Homo sapiens: one gene and its partners. The protein of the gene in region 2 interacts with the protein of the main gene of each other region in a pairwise test. Each region holds a gene or a part of one and is shown on either strand. Other genes may lie near its edges. The genes, in order: JAKMIP1, CHRM3 and SEPTIN3.

What was found.
Region 1: the proteins of CHRM3 (region 2) and JAKMIP1 interact in a two-hybrid assay, tested with the Homo sapiens proteins (one large-scale study listed by BioGRID and IntAct).
Region 3: the proteins of CHRM3 (region 2) and SEPTIN3 interact in a two-hybrid assay, tested with the Homo sapiens proteins (one large-scale study listed by BioGRID and IntAct).

Annotation. Positions count from the first base shown.
Region 1 is NC_000004.12:6,078,398-6,082,049, forward strand, and holds part of JAKMIP1 (janus kinase and microtubule-interacting protein 1), read right to left. Parts: intron 3,359-3,652; coding exon 3,212-3,358; intron 1,916-3,211; coding exon 1,775-1,915; intron 602-1,774; coding exon 542-601; intron 1-541. UniProt on the Homo sapiens protein: Associates with microtubules and may play a role in the microtubule-dependent transport of the GABA-B receptor. May play a role in JAK1 signaling and regulate microtubule cytoskeleton rearrangements.
Region 2 is NC_000001.11:239,910,922-239,914,573, reverse strand, and holds part of CHRM3 (muscarinic acetylcholine receptor M3), read right to left. Parts: 3' UTR 1-3,652.
Region 3 is NC_000022.11:41,989,879-41,993,530, reverse strand, and holds part of SEPTIN3 (neuronal-specific septin-3), read right to left. Parts: intron 1,959-3,652; coding exon 1,863-1,958; intron 868-1,862; coding exon 768-867; intron 1-767. UniProt on the Homo sapiens protein: Filament-forming cytoskeletal GTPase. May play a role in cytokinesis.

The DNA of each region.
Region 1 (3,652 bases), on a different chromosome or scaffold from region 2:
TATGCTTTTTTTTTTTTTTTTGGTATCAGCTCCAGTGCGCTCTTTACATTCCAGATTGGTCCCTGTGGGCATTTGAATTTTATAAGCCCAGCTCCTTCAGACACTGTTACTAGGAAATAGCAAAAGACCTATATTTTCCAAAAAAGACTACAGTTCTGCATGATTCCAAAAAAACACAAAGCTCCTGATTTTTTTAGAACAGGATATGCTCTCATATAAACCAACCCTGAATGTCCCTTAAATCCTTCAAAAGGTTTAAGTATTTATGTTTTTAATTTTGGGTGAATATACCCTGAAGCCTAAGTGGAGAATACATCAGGAAGTTTTCCATGAATAAATTACAATAACTGGGTCACATGACACGGCCATATTTATGTTGCTTTGAGAGACGGTGATGACAGGCTTTTCATCATCAGGCATGCAGAGATGTGTGTGTCTGCTTCAGGACCCCTCTGTAAAACCTCCCCACTCCACGACCCATCTGCCCTGCAGATCCGTGACACAGCGGCAAGGTAGGGCAGGTGCACCATCGCAGGCTCACCTTGGGCGGTTTCAGACTTTTCCCTCGATGCCTTTTGGAGCGCAACAGCCGTTCTCTCTCCTAGAAGGAAACACAACGGTTGGCATTTCCAGCCAGCCTCACATCTCACAAACCAAAGCCACTGGCTCTCAAAGGGAGCTGGGCCTGCCCATCCGCACCAGGCATGGCTAGTTGAAGTTCTAAGTGCCCAAGTGATGGCTGCTTCTCTGAACTGAGAGCTACAGGGAGAGTTTATTATCCACCTTTTGACTTTATTGTTATTTCACTGAAATATATTTTTCATCCTAAGCTGCATTGAGTCTTTTGTGTAATGAAGCAAAGATGGATGGATAGATAGATGTATGCATAGATAAGTGGATGGAAGGATGAAAGAATGGGTGAGTGGATGGATGGATGGGTGGACAGATGGGTGGGTGGATGGATGGATGGATGGATGGGTGAAAGGAAGAAAGAGAGAAGTTAAAGAGGTAGAGGGAGATGGAGGCAGGCAAAATGAACATGAAAATTATAATCAAAGCCTTTTCTAGAATTTTGATCACTAGCTTTTCTATTCTTTGAAAACCAGTGCATGGAACCATCACACACCCACTTTGGTGAGCAGAACACGTTCTACTTCTAAGATCCAACTAAAGCTCCCTGCAGGTGTTCTCTGCCTGTTGCCGAAGTTCCTTTCACAGAGAGCTGTGGAATTCTCTGGATGCAATTCTCCACCGCTTAGGACATACTCAACCCCCTTTGATAGATGCACGCCCCATATACACGTCCAAAACTCACACAGGCAGTCTTAGCAAGGTGCTGGTCTGGTTATAAGGTTCAAGTTTGTGGGCCTAAACTCACAGTCTGCAACTGCTAAGCTAAAAACCAACCAACCAACCAACCAAACAAACAAAAAGCCTTCTCTGGAACAGATCATGCCCAGTCTCTAAAGGCCAAAAGACATCCTTAAAACTGATGCTTCTCAATCACAGCAAGCTAGGGAGAAGATGTGAGAAAAGGGTAGCCATGGAAACTGTCCCCAAGTACCAGTGATCTCATTTAAGCCAAGGCTGCTTAGTGGCAGAATGAAGCGGGAATGTGCACACCAGGGTGAGCTTGGTGAGTCCCAAAGTCAGCACTGCCTGACCCTGACCCAGCTCAGCAGCATCACCCTGAGCCCCAACACCCGTTCCTGACACCCATGTCAGCTGGTGCCACCCCTGCCAGGGGCAGCCGCGCCAGCTGTGCTAGATGTACCAGTGAGAGGTCGTCAATGACGTGCTGCTGCTCCAGCACCTGCAGCCTCAGGAACTCGATCTCCTGCTCATCCCTCGTCAGGCTGAGGTCATTCAAGGAGGTATGCCGCTTCAGAGACGCCTGCGCTGACAGCTTTTCTTTCTGCAGCCACAGGGAGACAGACCACCACAGGGTTACCCGCCAACAGTGTTTGTTAGGGACAGTGCTGGAGTGGAGCTCAGGGGTGCAGGGACAGAAGGATGGATGGGAGGATGAAAGAGATGATGGCCTGATATGGTTTGGCTGTGTCCCCACCCAAATCTCATCTTGAATTGCGGCTCCCAGAACTCCCGTGTGTTGTGGGAGGGGCCAGGTGGGAGATCATTGAATCATGGTGGCGGTTTCTCTCATACTATTCTCGTGGTTGTGAATAAGTCTCTGATGTTTTTATAAGGGTTTTCCCCTTTTACTTGGCTCTCAGTCTGTCTTGTCTGCCGCCAAGTAAGATGTGCCTTTAGCTTTCTGCCATGATTGTGAGGCCTCCCCAGCCACGTGAAACTGTGAGTCCATTAAACCTCTTTTTCTTTACAAATTACCCAGTCTCAGGTATGCCTTTATCAGCAGTGTGAAAATGGACTAATACGTGGCCACCTTGTCCTGTGCTGGAAGAGGGGACAGGGCAGACCAAAGCCAAGCCCAAGGTGGGGCTGACCATGCACACTGCTGACAGGAAGGGATGCGCAGGGCCTGGGGGTGGAAGACGACATTTGAAATGAGCCTAGAAACCTGGGAGGGGAAGGCAGGGGAAGGAGAGGACTTCACACAACAGCAATTACACACACACACACACACACACACACACACCTGCATCTGCTACAGTGCAGACAGCAGAGCATGTGTGGTGACAGAGCCTCCGTCTTCCCGGCTGTGAAGTGGGGGTTGATACTACTCTGAACAATGAACCTGAAATCATTCTGTAAACTGTCAACTACAAGACGCCTGCCCTGACCACAAACACCAGGCATCCTAGCTGGAGGAGAAACCCCTCTGCAGAGCATCGCCAGCGATCATTGTAACAGCTTTCACTTGCTGGGTGTCCTCTGGGCCCGTTCCCTGTGAGGTCTTTACATGCTGTTATTTCATCCTCTTGATGATCCTCCAGTGTGGATATTTTCATTCCCATTTTATGCATGAAGAAACAGAGGCTCAGAGAGAATGGGGGATGTGTTTAAGGACACAGCTGTCTGACTCCCTCTGGGCACAAACACCCACAGCACAGTGAATGTGAGACAGGTGGAGAGAAAGGCGAGACATCTGTGACTGACACTGTGCCTGGTGCTTTGTGGGGAGGTGGGCAGCAGGTGCGCCCCAGAACATGTGAATCGGGAGGTTCAGGGCTGAAGAATCCCAGACAGAGAAGGGAGTGTCAGGGCTGTCCCCAAGGGGTCCACAGCTCACCATTTCCACGTTTTCCCGCGTGAGGTTCTTGATTTTCTCCTCCATCCTCTGGATACTCTGCAACAGATCCTCATTCTTCTTGTTCATCCGCTTGTTCTTCTCCACCAGGGGCTTCAGCTGAACCTCGGTCTCTCGTGAGCGTTTCAGCTGTGGTTGGAAACAGACACAGAGGCTCAGACAACTTGACGACGGACGGCCGAGGTCACAGCACCGAGGTGAGCAGAGACTCAACCCAGTTAGGACCCCTTCTGAGGCCAGTGTCCTGGATGACACATTTGTTTGCTAGTTGCATGACAATGGGCAAGTTCTCAGCCTCAGTTTCCTCATCTATCAAATGAGAATCACGGCAGCTCCTGTCTCCTAGGCACATGGTGAGAATTGAATGCATAGTGGTAGTCTCCCAGTGTTATTTTCATGGAAAGAATTAGAAACAACTTAAAT
Region 2 (3,652 bases):
ATAAAAAACAGAGTTAATTTTCTTTTTCCTCTTTGGACTCTAAATTATTTGTTCACAACTTCAAATCTATTTAAAATATTTCTCCTTATTGCTCAGTGATATTTTATTAGATAAGCATCATGTTTGTGAACACTTTCCACTTCCCAGCCAAATAACTCCTGACTACAGTAGCAGCATGGGACATTGATGTGCACAGAATGTTGATAATATTTGTTATATTAATAAGGAGGTTATTAGATATTCAACATTTATTGAATATATGCAATTTGCCAGATTCTGTGTGAGCCACAGGATACAGAGTGATGAATAAGACCCAATTACTATCATCAAGGAACTCACAGAATACAGGATAAAAAGAGTTTTGAGTTTTGTATGTGAACTGCAGAACTGCTAAGCATTTTGGACTCCAAGAAAGAACAATAGTAAGCTTTTAGATTCTGGGGATAATCTTTTTAGCTGAAGCTAGGGTTGCCGGATTATAATTTGGGTGCGGGAAGTTTTACTAATGCTTCTTTGCAGTGGAGAGTATGGCCCCTTTATCTTTTAAATAGAATGCAACTGAGATGTGAGCCCCTTTGATTCTCTAGATGATTTTTTGGGGTGGTCTCAGCCCAGACCAGAGTGGTAGGGTCAGAACTTTGTGTGAGTCTCTGTGGTTCTACCAGAACAAACATAGGCCTGATATTCTAGCAACGCATTTGGATGACTTCCATATATCCAAATACACTATCCGTCTCTGCGCGAAGCTGTGAACGTGATGTGTGCCTAATAATACTAACACTTGCTCATTTCTGAGCCGTACAACAAAACACTGTGCAGTTACAAACTTACGTGGGGTATAGTCATTTTATGAACTAGATCTTCTTTTCTCATTTTTATTTTCTTATCATGAGCCTCCCTTCCCAGACATTAACACTAAAGCCAGAAAAGGAAAATGGAATTCTCCAGTTCTAAAGAACATTGGGTTACCATTCTAGAAACCTTTCTCAGGTCTGCAATGTTGACTCACACATTAATGCTGGGAGAGGCTGAAGATTTAGAGTCATCAGAACAGGAGAAGAGAGTGTAACTTAAGCGTGTAGAAAGGAAGCAGTAAACTTGTCCTTGAACCTATTAAGGGCTAGAGTTGATACTGTCTAAATAAGTTTGTTGCACGTGGTATTGGAGCAAAATATTCTTTCAGAGGAGGTGCTAGAAGTAGGGTTCTTTAGGTTAAAAAAAAATAACTTTGGAGTGTTGTAATCTATACAGTTTCAGTTCTGTTATGAGAAATGCTATTGCAAAACCAAAGCAAACACCTGCTACCTAGAAACTCTATTTTGTGAGTTTGCCCGACCTCAGGTGCTGGGTTGGAGTGGTATTTGAAACCATACTACTCCGGGTTTGCCAACAAATTTCAAAGCTTCCTTGGTTACCTTCCAAATTTCAAGATTTTGTGGTGTTGAAATAGAGTAAGTAAATAACTTTACAGAATATAAAATCTGAAATTTTCAAACATTCACCCAATATACCATTTTACTTTCGTCATGGTAGCTGCTGACCTCAGTTTTGACCGATTTGGCATCAGAAGGCAAATTAGAGAAGCTTCGGTGTTGTTGCTTAGTTTGAGCAATGAGGATAAAACCCAGAAAGTTTAGGTTAAGTGACAAGCATTCCTAAGGACATGTAACTAAGCAGTGACCAAACTGGTCCAGAAACTTCAGGTTCCTCATCCTAAATTCATTGCTTCTTTGACTATACTGCACTATTTTCACTCGTCCTCTGAAGCTGCCAGGGGAAGATTGTGCAATTTCCTGGAATATGTCCCCATCCTTGAATCATCTCTACTCAGATAGGTACAGGACACCCTGACTGATCCCTGGAATCCTTCTCTGTGCCACTCTGGTATTAGACTTCTCCGCTGTGACAGAGCCTTGGCATCCTTCTTTCCTCCCTGAGTCAGAGCTGAAACAGCCAACTGTGCATCAGAGCTCTGTGCTCCAGCTTCTCTCTCGATACATGAAGGGGCTTCCAGCGCTCTGCAGAGCAATGAGCCCTGCACGAGGGCAACGTAGGAAGCCTGACAGAGAAAACTGATATGCCTTCTAGATCTTTAGCCACAGCAGGGTCTAACGCTTAGGCTTCTTGTTTGTTTTCATTCCGTCAGAGTCTACAACTATTGTACACTAAAGGGTAAAGAGAAATGAAAAATATGTAGAGAGTCAAGGCTGGGCTTAAGAGGCAAAGGGTGACTAGGAGAATAGGGAGGACTAGCATAGAGGCCACAGGGAGCTGATGGGCAAAGGAGAGCAGAGCCGAGGGATCTAGGGGACCAGAGAGAGCTCACTTCTCCTAACCATCTGGCAATGCCTGGAGAATGGAGATTGAGTGTGTGTGTGTGTGCTTGTGAGAGAGAGAGAAGGAAGAAGAGGGAGAAAGAGAGAGAGAGAGGCAGAGAGAGAGAGAGAGATTCTCCATGTGTAGTTTATTTTAGGTTTGATCATTTTCTTCTTTCAAGCAAAGTGGCTAATCTTGAAATGTCTGCAAACCTCATGCATATGGCATGAAATAATTCGATTCCCAATTTGGGATGAAGACATTTTGATCTTAGGTAAGTGCTGAATATCTCCTGTAATGACAAGCCCTTTGAGAAATGCACGTGTAACTAAGGTCCAATTATAAATACTCACTACATCTTCAATTATGCTTTTAAATTATTCATATTCAAAAGAACCTATTTTGCTTGTTTTCTTTCTCTGAAAGTGACCCAAGAAATGGACATACCTTTCTATAAAATCAGTAGATAGTATTTAAATGCAGCTTTCATCCATAAGAGGCTTAAAAACAATTCTATAATAAAACCAGTAAAACAAAAAAGGGAGACCTAGAGTCTTGGATTTGTTCCTTTTCTGCTATTATTAGCATCACAAAAGGACAAGGATAAGGAGATAATCATGTTTAAGGAGATTGGAAGTGACTCTCAAAGTTCTGTTAAATTTCAGGGTTTCTCCTTTTCTCAAATTTAATTCTATTTCTTTTTTTTTTTTAATAAAAGAAACAGCCCTTTTGGGAGGGAGGCAAGATAGGAGTTTCCAAAAGGATGGGAAGTGCTGAAGTACTGGGACACTTGAATAAGCTTTCACATATTTATTAGTGCCAGGCCAACTTGAGAAATAAAATATAGATGCAATTGCTTACTAGATGTTTCACAGGTGGATAATATGACATTCTGTAGTTTGCTGTGTACATATTAGAAAATCGTCTGTTTCTTTCTTGTTCTTTGGTTGAATGTGGGCCCAAAAAAATCATTCTTACAATTATGCTGATTGTTTTTTTTTTTCCCTGTGTAAAATGATTTCAGACACAATGGTGGAGCTTTGTTCAGTTCCCATCAGATTTAACTAAAGAGTGGTTTTAAACATTTACGTTGAAGTGACCGTTGACTTTTTATTACCTAGAAAGAGTTAGGTGCTTGGTGATGCCAACAGGATGACATGTTTCTTCTTCTTAGCCACAGGAAAGCTCCAATATACTCTATTCATTGCTCAAGTGGACCTTAAAGAATCACTTTGAAAGGACACCATGGCTGACGACTGAAGAGTCATATTTATCAACATTAAATAAACACTTGGTGTAGTATCCATAAATATTTCTGCATATAAACATAACACGA
Region 3 (3,652 bases), on a different chromosome or scaffold from region 2:
TACAAAAATTAGCTGGGCTAATTTTTGGGGATAAATAAAAAATACAAAAATCGGGGTCCGCACCTGTAGTCCCAGATACTTGGGAGACTAAGGCAGAAGAATTACTTGAACCTGGGAGGCAGAGGTTGCAGTGAGCTGAGATTGCGCCACTGCACTCCAGCCTGGATGACAGAGTGAGACTCCGTCTCAAAAAAAAAAAAAATCTGAGTCTGAAATCAAGTTTCACCACTAACAAGTTATGTGCTTTGGACAAGGCTTTTAACCTGAGCTTCCGGTGCTTTGGTAGCTTATACTCTGAGAACAGGAGCACCCGCTCTCCTCCCTTCATAGGGTTATCATATTGAATGAAATCATTAAAGTGATTCTTTGACCACTTTCAGAATCATCAAGACCCGCCCAGGGTCACATCCATTCATAATAAAATGGAAATGGCAACACCTGAACAACCCTCCGGCAGTTTGTCAGATCACATCCCCCTTCCTATGAAAACCTTTCTCCAGTTTTTCCAGGCCTTACTAATCTCTCCATGTTCTGAACTCCTTTGATGCGCTAAGTCAGTGCCACCCAGTCAGGTGCTAAATCAGTCTCTTGTTACTCCTGCCTGTGAGCATCGTCTTCTCAATGAGACTGTAAGCTCCTTATGGGCAGAATCTGGCTGGCATTCATTTCATATGTCCTGAGACAGTGCCTTGACCTATAGATGCTTAATAAATGGTGACTGGATAACTGATCAGCAACCAGTTCTTCCAGAAGATGCAGTGAATTACCTTCGATGATCCCCCATGGAGTTTTTCGGCCGAGGACCCTCTTGCCATTCACTTGGTACTCCTTGTCACTTCCCACCACAGCAAAAGGCATGCTCTCCTGCTGCACGGGGCAGAAACACAAACCAGACACATGTGCACCGTCATCCTCCAACAACCTGGACTTTCAGGAGCAGGATGGCATATGGTCCTCTAGCCTTGAACCACACACTTCTGATGCTCATTCAGAGATACTACTGATGGCAAGGGCAAGGCTCAGTCTCTTGAAAAGAGCACCCGACTGAGATTGAAGAGTCCTGGGTCTAGTCCCAATTGTACCACTGCCTCACTGGTTAACCTCAGGAATCAGCTCTCCTTCAGCTGCAGAGCGCTTTGTACTTTCTTTTTTGAGACAGAGTTCGCTCTTGTTGCCCAGGCTGGAGTGCAATGGCACAATTTCAACTCACTGCAACCTCCACCTCCTGGCTTCAAGCAATTCTCCTGCCTCAGCCTCCCGAGTAGCTGGGATTACAGGCATGCGCCACCATGCCTGGCTAATTTTTGCAGGTTTTGTAGAGATAAGTTTTTGCCATGTTGCCCAGGCTGGTCGTGAACTCCTGGGCTCAAGCGATTCTCCCACCTAGGCCTCCCAAAGTGCTGGGATACAGGCATGAGTCACCACGCCCAGCCAATTTAATTTTTTTAAGTTATTCTAGCGGGGGAAGCCTATAAGCCACTCAGTCTAACCCCTGCATTTCATAGAGGGGAAACTAAGGCAGGGTCTGACCACAGCATAGATCCTCCTGGACCCCAGCCTGATGCTCTTCCTGCCTGCTGCCCCTCCCATCACCCCAAATACTGTTTTTGCCAGACCTTGTTGGGGAAAAGGAGGCTTTTATGTGGTCTGGGGATAGAAGGCTTTCTGGGTACAGGGAGCCCTTCTGTGGGTTCACAGTCCAGGGCCATAGTCCTCCCCATCCCCCTATGTCACTTCTGGTCTGGGTCAGGCAAGGTTGGGGGGAGTACAGAAAGGGAAAAGACAGACAGAGGACGTGCACAATACACATCCCAGAGGTCGCAAGGGGGCATCAGTGGAGGAGCAGTGCCCCAGGCACCCACCCTGATTTTGTCATTCTCCGTCTTATCCTCCAAATCCTCATCAAATTCCTTCTGGGGGTAGAATTCAATGCCATTTACTTCAAGCTCCTTGCGAACCTAGAGGCGAGGAGAAGAAACAAGGTAGTCAAGTGTCAGGGTAATGGAAAAGAGGGGTGTGTGCACCTGTGTGCGTGAGCTGAGGTCAGAGAGCCAAATCCAGCCTTGGATAATCCACAGTCATCTCTGAACTCTGAGACCCTGAGCAGCAGGAAGATGGTGAATAAATGCAAGCCCCAGCTATACAATTACAACCTAGCCTGAGAGGAGGAAGAGGCCAGGAGGTGCAACTTCAGGTCCCAGGCGCCTCGCAACCAGCTTGCTCATCTCAGGGTCCGCGAGACTGGGATTTACACAAGCAGCACAGGTGAGCCCACTGGGGAGTGCTCAGACCCCTGCATGTTATATTCCTGATTGGAAGGAAGAAAGGTGAGGCTCCCCCTACTCCGAGACTGTTTGCCCTCTTTCAAGGTCGACTTAAGTCTTGCCTTCTCCAGGAAACCATCCAGGACCTCTTCATTTTCTATTTGATTATAAGTTTTGTTTGTTTGTTGTTTGTTTGTTTGTTTGAGACCGAGTCTTGCTCTGTTGCCCAGGCTGGAGTACCGTGGTGCGATCTTGGCTCACTACAACCTCCACCTCCCGGGTTCCAGTGATTCTCCTGCCTCAGCCTCCCTAGTAGCTGGGCTTACAGGCATATGCCACCACGCCCAGCTAATTTTTGTATTTTTAGTAGAAATGGGGTTTCACCATGTTGGCCAGGCTGGTCTCGAACTCCTGACCTTAGGTGATCCACCCGCCTTGGCCTCCCAAAGTGCTGGGATTACAGGCGTGAGCCACCGCCCCCAGCCAATTGTAAGTTTCTTTTTTTTTTTTTTTTTTTTTTTGAGATAGAGTGTCACTTTGTCGCCCAGGCTGGAGTACAGTAGCACGATCTCAGCTCACTGCAAGCGCCGCCTCTCGGGTTCATGCCATTCTCCTGCCTCAGCCTCCTGAGTAGCTGGGACTACAGGCACCCGCCACCACACCCGGCTAATTTTTTTGTATTTTTAGTAGAGACGGGGTTTCACCGTGTTAGCCAGGATGGTCTTGATCTCCTGACTTCGTGATTCACCCGCCTCTGCCTCCCAAAGTGCTGGGATTACAGGCATGAGCCACCACGCCCAACTGGATTGTAAATTTCTTAAAGGCAGCAATTGTCTTTTCATTTCTCTCAAATCGCCCCTCCCCAACCCTGTACATCCAGCACAGGGCTGAGCTTATAGAACATGCCAGTGAGGGCTGGGCACGGTGGCTCACGCCTGTAATCCCAGCACTTTGGGAGGCCGAGGCGGGCAGATCACGAGGTCAGGAGATCAAGACTAGCCGAGACCATCCTGGCTAACACAGTGAAACCCCATCTCTACTAAAAAGAGAAAAACAAAATTAGCCAGGCGTGGTGGTGGGTGCCTGTAGTCCTAGCTACTCAGGAGGCTGAGGCAGGAGAATGGCGTGAACCCGTAAGGCGGAGCTTGCAGTGAGCCGAGATCACGCCACTGCACTCCAGCCTGGGCGACAGAGAGAGACTCCAAAAAAAAAACAAAGAGAAGATGCCAGTGAGGACTAGTGGCCAGTTGACTCACTAATTAGTCTAGCCCTTCAATTAGGCTAACGTTGGAGGAGTGATTTCTTATGTACACAGTGATACATGTATTCAGTGGTCTTCACAGGTAGGTTTGGAGGGTGGGAAGAAGGCAGCCCAGAGCTGTGCCATC